Linked DNA regions of Homo sapiens: region 2 is reported to be linked to region 1. The links are microRNA targets in miRTarBase. Many come from high-throughput screens and were not tested one by one. Region 1 holds a microRNA gene; the other region holds the end of a gene's coding sequence.

The links. The annotated mature microRNA hsa-miR-3144-5p reads AGGGGACCAAAGAGAUAUAUAG and lies in region 1 at 2,496-2,517, shown strand. An mRNA with a match to its seed (bases 2 to 7 or 8) in the 3' UTR can be bound and repressed. Matches are read on the target gene's strand: a 7mer-m8 pairs with bases 2 to 8, a 7mer-A1 pairs with bases 2 to 7 and ends in A, and an 8mer does both.
Region 2: miRTarBase lists DNAJC30 as a target of hsa-miR-3144-5p. Seed matches in the 3' UTR shown: 7mer-A1 at 267-273.

Annotation. Positions count from the first base shown.
Region 1 is chr6:120,012,696-120,016,341 of GRCh38, forward strand. It overlaps MIR3144 (microRNA 3144), which reads left to right and starts at 2,484; the gene lies at 2,484-2,562.
Region 2 is chr7:73,679,714-73,682,984 of GRCh38, reverse strand. DNAJC30 (DnaJ heat shock protein family (Hsp40) member C30) reads left to right here. Exons shown (of 1, transcript NM_032317.3): 1 at 1-2,067. The coding sequence ends at 242. Among named protein-coding and RNA genes, the nearest start is that of DNAJC30, 2.1 kb to the left of the region's middle. RefSeq lists an enhancer at 21-110.

The DNA of each region.
Region 1 (3,646 bases):
AATTAGGCCAAAGTTGTTGATTATCTTATTTAGATCATCTGTATCTAATTTGTATCTGCATCTAATATGTATCATTTGTATTTCTAGTTTTAGTTTGTTTTTGTGGGTACATAGTAGGTGTATATATTTATGGATGTTTTATGCAGACATGCAATGTAAAATAATTAAATCACGGACAATGGGGGTATCCATCCCCTCAAGCTTACTATCCTTTGTATTAAGAACAATTCAATTATATCCTTTTAGTTATTTAAAAATGTACAATTATTTCTGACTATAGTCACCCTGTTGTGCTATCAAATAGTAGGTATTATTCTTTCTAACTATTTTTTTACCCATTAACCATCCCCAACACTTGCCCAGCCACCCACTATGCCTCCCAGCCTCTGGCAACCATCCTTCTACTCCCTATGCCCATGAATTCAATTGTTTTGATATTTAATTCCCACACATAAGTGAGAAAATATGATGTTTGTCTTTCTGTGCCTGGCTTATTTCACTTAACACAATGATCTCCGGTTCCATCCATGTTGAAAATAACAGGATCTCATTCTTCTTATGACTGAATAGTACTCGTTGTGTTTATGTACCACATTTTCTTTATCCATTCATCTGTTGAGAGACACTTAGGTTGCTTCCAAATCTTAGCTATTGTAAATACTGCTGCAACAAACATAGGAGTGCAGCTACCTCTTCAATATACTGATTTCCTTTCTTTTGTGTATATACCCAGCAGTGGGATTGCTGGATCATATGGTAGCTCTATTTTTAGTTTCTTGAGGAACCTCCAGACTTTTCTCTGTAGTAGTTATGCAAATTTACATTCCCACTAATAGTGTACAAGGGTTCCCTTTTCTCCACATCCTTGACAAAATTTATTGCCTGTCTTCTGGATATAAGCCATTTTAACTGTGGTGAAATATTTCTCATTGTAGTTTTAATTTGCATTTCTCTGATCAATGATGTTCAGCACCTTTTCATATGCCTGTTTGCCACTTGTATGTGTTTTGAAAAATGTCTATTCAAGGCTTTGCTTATTGATCAGATTATTGGATTTTTTTCTTGTAGAGTTTCTTGAGATCTTTATATATTCCGGTTATTAATCCCTTGTCAGGGGTAGTTTGCAAATATTTTCTTCCATTCTGTGAGTTGACTCACTTTGTTGATTGTATTCTTTGCTGTGCAGAAGCTTTTTAACTTGATGTGATCCCATTTGTCTATTTCTGTTTTGGTTGCCTATGCTTCTGGGACATTGTTCAAGAATTTTTTGCCCATACCAATGTCTTGGAGATTTTTGCCAATGTTTACTGGTAGTTTATACTTTGAAGTTTTAGATTTAAGTCTTTAATCAACTTTGATTTTATTTTTGTACATGGCAAAAGATAGGGGTCTAGTTTTATTCTTCTGCATATGGATATCCAGTTTTCCCAGCACTGTTTATTGAAGAGACTGTCTTTTACCCAGTGTATGTTATTGGCACATTTGTGGTAACTCTCTAGATAAAGAAAAGCTGAGCACATTCATCACCATCAGATCAGTTGTACAAGAAATGATAAAGGGAATTCCATAAGCTGAAAGAAAATTAGCAACATGAAAAAATATGAAAGTATAACAATGACTGGTAAAACTAAGAAGTCAAATTCAAAATACTATAATAATGTAATGGTATATAAACTGCTTTTATTCTTAATATGAATGTTAAAAGACAAAGCTACTAAAAATAATAGCTGGCTATAATAATTTTTAAGGGATACACAATAGAAGAACATATAAATTGTGATGTCAAACATAAGATGTGACGGTAAAAAGTTTTAATGCAATCAAAGTCAAGTTATCAATTTAAATTAGCCTGTTTTAAATATACAATATTTTATGTAAACATCATGCTAACCACAAAACAAAAGCCTATAGTAAATACGCAAAAATAAAAGGTAAGGAATCGAAGCATATCACTAGAGAAAATTACCTAATCCAAAAGGAAGCCATCAAGAAAAAGTAACGAAGGATCTATACAACATTTAGAAAACAATTAAAAAATGACAGTAGTAAATCTATAATTACCTTGAGTGTAAATGGATTAAATTCTCCAATAAAAAGTAGATAAATAGATACAAAAAAGTCCCAACTCTATACTACTTATAAAATTCTCGCCTCACCTTTAATCACACACATAGACTGAAAGTGAAGGAATGAAAAAAGATTTCATGCAAATGGAAACCAAAAGAGCAGAAATATCTATACTAGATAAGGTAGACTACATCAAAAATTGTAAAAGACAAAGAAGGTCACTATATAATAATGAGGTCAACTTATCAAGAGGACATAACAATTCTAAATACAAATGTACTCAACATCACAGCTCCTAAATATATAAAACAAATATTAATATATATGAATGGAGAAAATACAAGGAAACTTCACTATCCAGCTTCCAAAAATGGTTATTCTTCAGAAAGAAAATCTACAGGAAAACATCAGACTGAAACTACACTTTAAGGGGACCAAAGAGATATATAGATATCAGCTACCTATATACCTGTTCGGTCTCTTTAAAGTGTAGTTTAACTGATTTTTTAATGGATATATACATATCAATGGAGACATATATAACTTATGGATATAGAACATTTCATCCAACATTAGCAGAATACATGTTCTTAAGGGCACATGAAACATTCTTTGGGATAGATTGCAGGGTAGGCCACAAAACAGGCCTTAACAAATTTAAAAATATTAAAATTATACTACATATCTTTTTTGACCTCAATGGTATGATACTATAAATAATTTTAAAAATTTCATAAAATTTCCAAATAAATGGAAATTTAAAAGTCGTGACCTTTAACAATGAACGATTCAAAGAGAAAAATAAAAGGGAAATTAAAAAATATCTTGAGACAGTGAACACACAACATGCCAAAACTTATGGGATTCAGCAAAAGGAGTTCTTTTAAGGTAGAAGTTTATATCAATAAATACCTATGTCAGAAAAAGAACATTATTAACAACTTAACATTATTTCTCAAGTTACTAGAAAAATGAGCACACTAAGACCAAAGTCAGTAAAAGAAAGAAAATAATAAAAATCTGAGCAAAAATAAAAAAATAGACTTGAAAACATTAGAAAAGATTGCTGAAACCAAGAGTTGCTATTTTGAAAAAATAAAATCAACAAACCTTTAGCTAGACTAAGAAAAATGAGAAAACTTATGGGCAAGGACTTCATGTCTAAAACACCAAAAGCAATGGCAACAAAAGCCAAAGTTGACAAATGGGATCTATTAAAACTAAAGAGCTTCTGCATAGCAAAAGAAATTGCCGACAGAGCGAACAGGTAACCTACAGAATGGGAGAAAATTTTTGCAATCTACTCATCTGACAAAGGGCTAATATCCAGAATCTATAAAGAACTCAAATTTACAAGAAAAAACAAACAACCCCATCAAAAAGTGGGCAAAGGATATGAACAGACACTTCTCAAAAGAAGACATTTATGCAGCCAACAGACACATGAAAAAATGCTCATCATCACTGGCCATCAGAGAAATGCAAATCAAAACCACAATGAGATACGATCTCATACCAGTTAGAATGGCGATCATTAAAAAGTCAGGAAACAATAGTTGCTGGAGAGGATGTGGAGAAA
Region 2 (3,271 bases), not on the chromosome of region 1:
CCCACGACGGTTCTCGGGCCTCCCCCGGCGCCAACCGCACGATGTTCAACTTTGACGCCTTCTACCAGGCCCACTACGGGGAACAACTGGAGCGGGAACGGCGCCTGAGGGCCCGGCGGGAGGCCCTTCGCAAACGGCAGGAGTATCGGTCCATGAAAGGCCTCCGCTGGGAGGATACCCGAGACACGGCTGCCATTTTCCTCATCTTTTCAATCTTCATCATCATCGGCTTTTATATTTAATCGGAGAGAGAAGGGAAGGGGAGTGTCCCCAGCCAACCCCCCAGAAACGGCCTTTTTTCCTGCCTCTGAACCCTTGGCCATTGATAGTCTACCTTTGCTGGGATCCGAAGGAACTGTACTCCCCCTGCCCTCCCCGACCCGCCCAGCTTAGCCGATGACCTGCACATCGCTCCACTGTGGTCCAGAAAAGGAGGCCTTTCGATGTCTGAGAAAGAGGCCCCACGCTGTAGAGTCCCGAAAGCCCAGGAGTGAAGGGGGTTCCTGGAGTCTCTAGGGTGCTTCTTCCAGAGTCTGTCTTCTTGCTTCCAGATGTGGTCAACTTCTGGAACACTCGCTGTAGCTTTATTGTTTAGCCCCAAGCAAGATTTATCTCCTCCTGCCCCGCATGTGTATGGTGGGCCTCTGTAACCTTGAAATGTGCAATGTGACCAATTGTTGACTACCAAAAGAAAAGGTCTGGGGTTGTACGAAACTTGTCTTTCTGTGACTTCCCCAAGCCGCAGGTGAGACCTGGTCCAGGGTAAGAATGGGATCGGTGGAGAGCCTGTCGTTCCTCCCGCTAAGGTCAGCCCCCTGGGGCACTCCTCCTTATGTTGATAGCATGTAGGAGTGAGAAAAAGTCATTGAGCATAAGGAATGAGTGTTCCTGTGCCCATATTTAATGTGTGACCTTGGAGAAGTTACTCTGTAGGCATGACAGCAGAGGAGAAAATCATTTGGCATCTTGAGGTCTGTCATGCTTTATTATCCATAGTTTTTGGGGGGTTTTTTGTTTTGTTTTGTTTTTGAGATGGAGTCTTGCGCTCTGTTGCCCAGGCTGGAGTGCAGTGGTGCGATCTTAGCTCACTGCAACCTCCACCTCCCGGGTTCAAGCGATTCTCCTGCCTCAGCCTCCTGTGTAACTGGGATTACAGGCTCCCACCACACCTGGCTAGTGTTTTGTATTTTTAGTAGATACGGGGTTTCACCATGCTGGCCAGACTGAGGTCTCGAACTGCCGACCTCAGGCTGTCTGCCCGTCCAGCCTCCCAAAGTGCTGGGATTGCAGGCATGAGCCACTGCTCCCGGCCCTATTATCCATAGTTCTAATCCACAGGGATTACAGCATAATGCTAGCAGGGCCAGGTTCATCCTTGAGACAGTGTGGCTGGCTGTCACCTGGTCCTCCCTTTACCAGCCAGCCCCATTGCACACTGTGCAGCCCATCCCCTCCCAGAAATAGAGTGACAAACTCTGCACTTAAGTCCCCTGTTTCTGTTTAACTTGCAGTGCTTATCACAGGCCCTTCCTTAATTTTTTAAACAAGGCTGCTTGAGGCTGGGGTAAATTTTGGGGCTTTGGGAGTACACAGGACTACTGAGGGACGGGGAGTTGGTGGCTTGGTGTTCATGGTGGAGACTTGGTTCTTTACGCAGAGCAGGCTAAAGGCGTGTTTTTTCTGCTCTGTTTCTAATTCATGTTAAGTAGTTGGTCATCACTTTGGTCAGAGCTGCTGCTGAAGCTCTCTTAACTGTGAGTCACTGGACGTTGGCAGGGAGTTGGCTGTGAGATTGTAGGTGCTCAAGTGTTTCTGTTCGGGACTGAGTGTGAATCTGTAAAAGGGGAAAATCCTCGCAAGAGGTCTACGAGAAGGATGAGGGCCCAAGTCTAGGGTCTAAACAAAGCCAGGAGTGGTTTGGTATATTACTGAGTGCAATCATTGCGTGCCATTCCTGCACTCAATGTATTGTGTAAAATCCTTAGGTAAAATGGGATAAACCCACAGCTGGTCCTACTTGGCCTCTTGAAAACCATTCCATCATTGTGCCAATCTAGCCTGAAAAGGAAAAAAAAAAAGGGAAACCATTGATTGTCTCTTGCCTCGGAGGTTGGGGGTATGCCCCTACTCCAGGCTTTGCAGTGATCATATGATGCAGTAATGAAGATCTGGGGCCTGGCACAACACTTTGGGATCCACCCAAGGCGGGTGGATCACTTGACCTCAGGAGTTGGAGACCAGCCTGGGCAACACGGCAAAACCCCATCTCTACAAAAATCACAAAAATTAGCCGGGTGTGGCAAGTGCCTGTAGTCCCAGCTACTCAGGAGGCTAAGGTGGGAGAATCGCTTGAGCCTGAGAGGTCGTGGTTGCAGTGAGCTGCGATCCTGCCACTGCATTCCAGCCTGGGCTACAAAGCTAGACCCTATCTCAAAAAAAAAAAAAAAGAAAAAGAAAAAAAAGATTTGAGCCCAATCTGGTTCAGACCTGTTTGGCTCAGTGAGCCTGGACTTGGGGGAAGGGGATATGTACTTTTTAAAAGAACATTTATTGTTACTATGTTTCATATTTAGAAAACAGGACAGAGACTTTTTTCTGGAAAAACAAAACTGCAGCAAGTGGAGTTTCTTTTTTCTGGAAAAACAAACTGCACGAAGTGGAGTTTAGCAAAATGTTCTGAAACTAGTGCTTCTCAACCAGTAAAGCAGGCACGACAGAAACAGTGGGGCAAGGGCTTTTTGTTCTAGTGAAACAGGTGGCCTCCTTTCGATGTGGGTTTGTAAAGCACTAGTGGTCTAATAGCATGGGCTCCTTGAGATAGACCTCTGAAGTTTGTTTTCTCAGTCAAGATCCCAGCCAGGAACGTTCCCTGTGAGCCCCCGAATCTGGGGTACATAGAAAATTCCAGAAGGTTCAGACTGGGGGTGGGTCCAGACTAAGGTAAACTTCTGGGACATTCCATGAAACTCTAAGCAAAGTATTCTATAAGGTTTACTAACCATCATCCAATCCTAAGCCTCTCCCCTGACTCAGCACAAGGCCTACTCCGTAATGTCATCCCTTTATGCCTCAGGGTTTTGTAGGCCAGAGCTAATGCCTGAGGGACCCCACTCCCTGCCTGCCCTGAAACTGAGCCTGTGCTCTTCATGGAAAGGAAAATGTGTGGGAGGCTTTTTGAAGGACCCCCAAAAGGTTCCCATGGTCACATTTTCCCCCCACCCACTCAGATTGGCTTGAGTCTTTTCTTTCTCTGCTGCTACCTGGCAAGTGG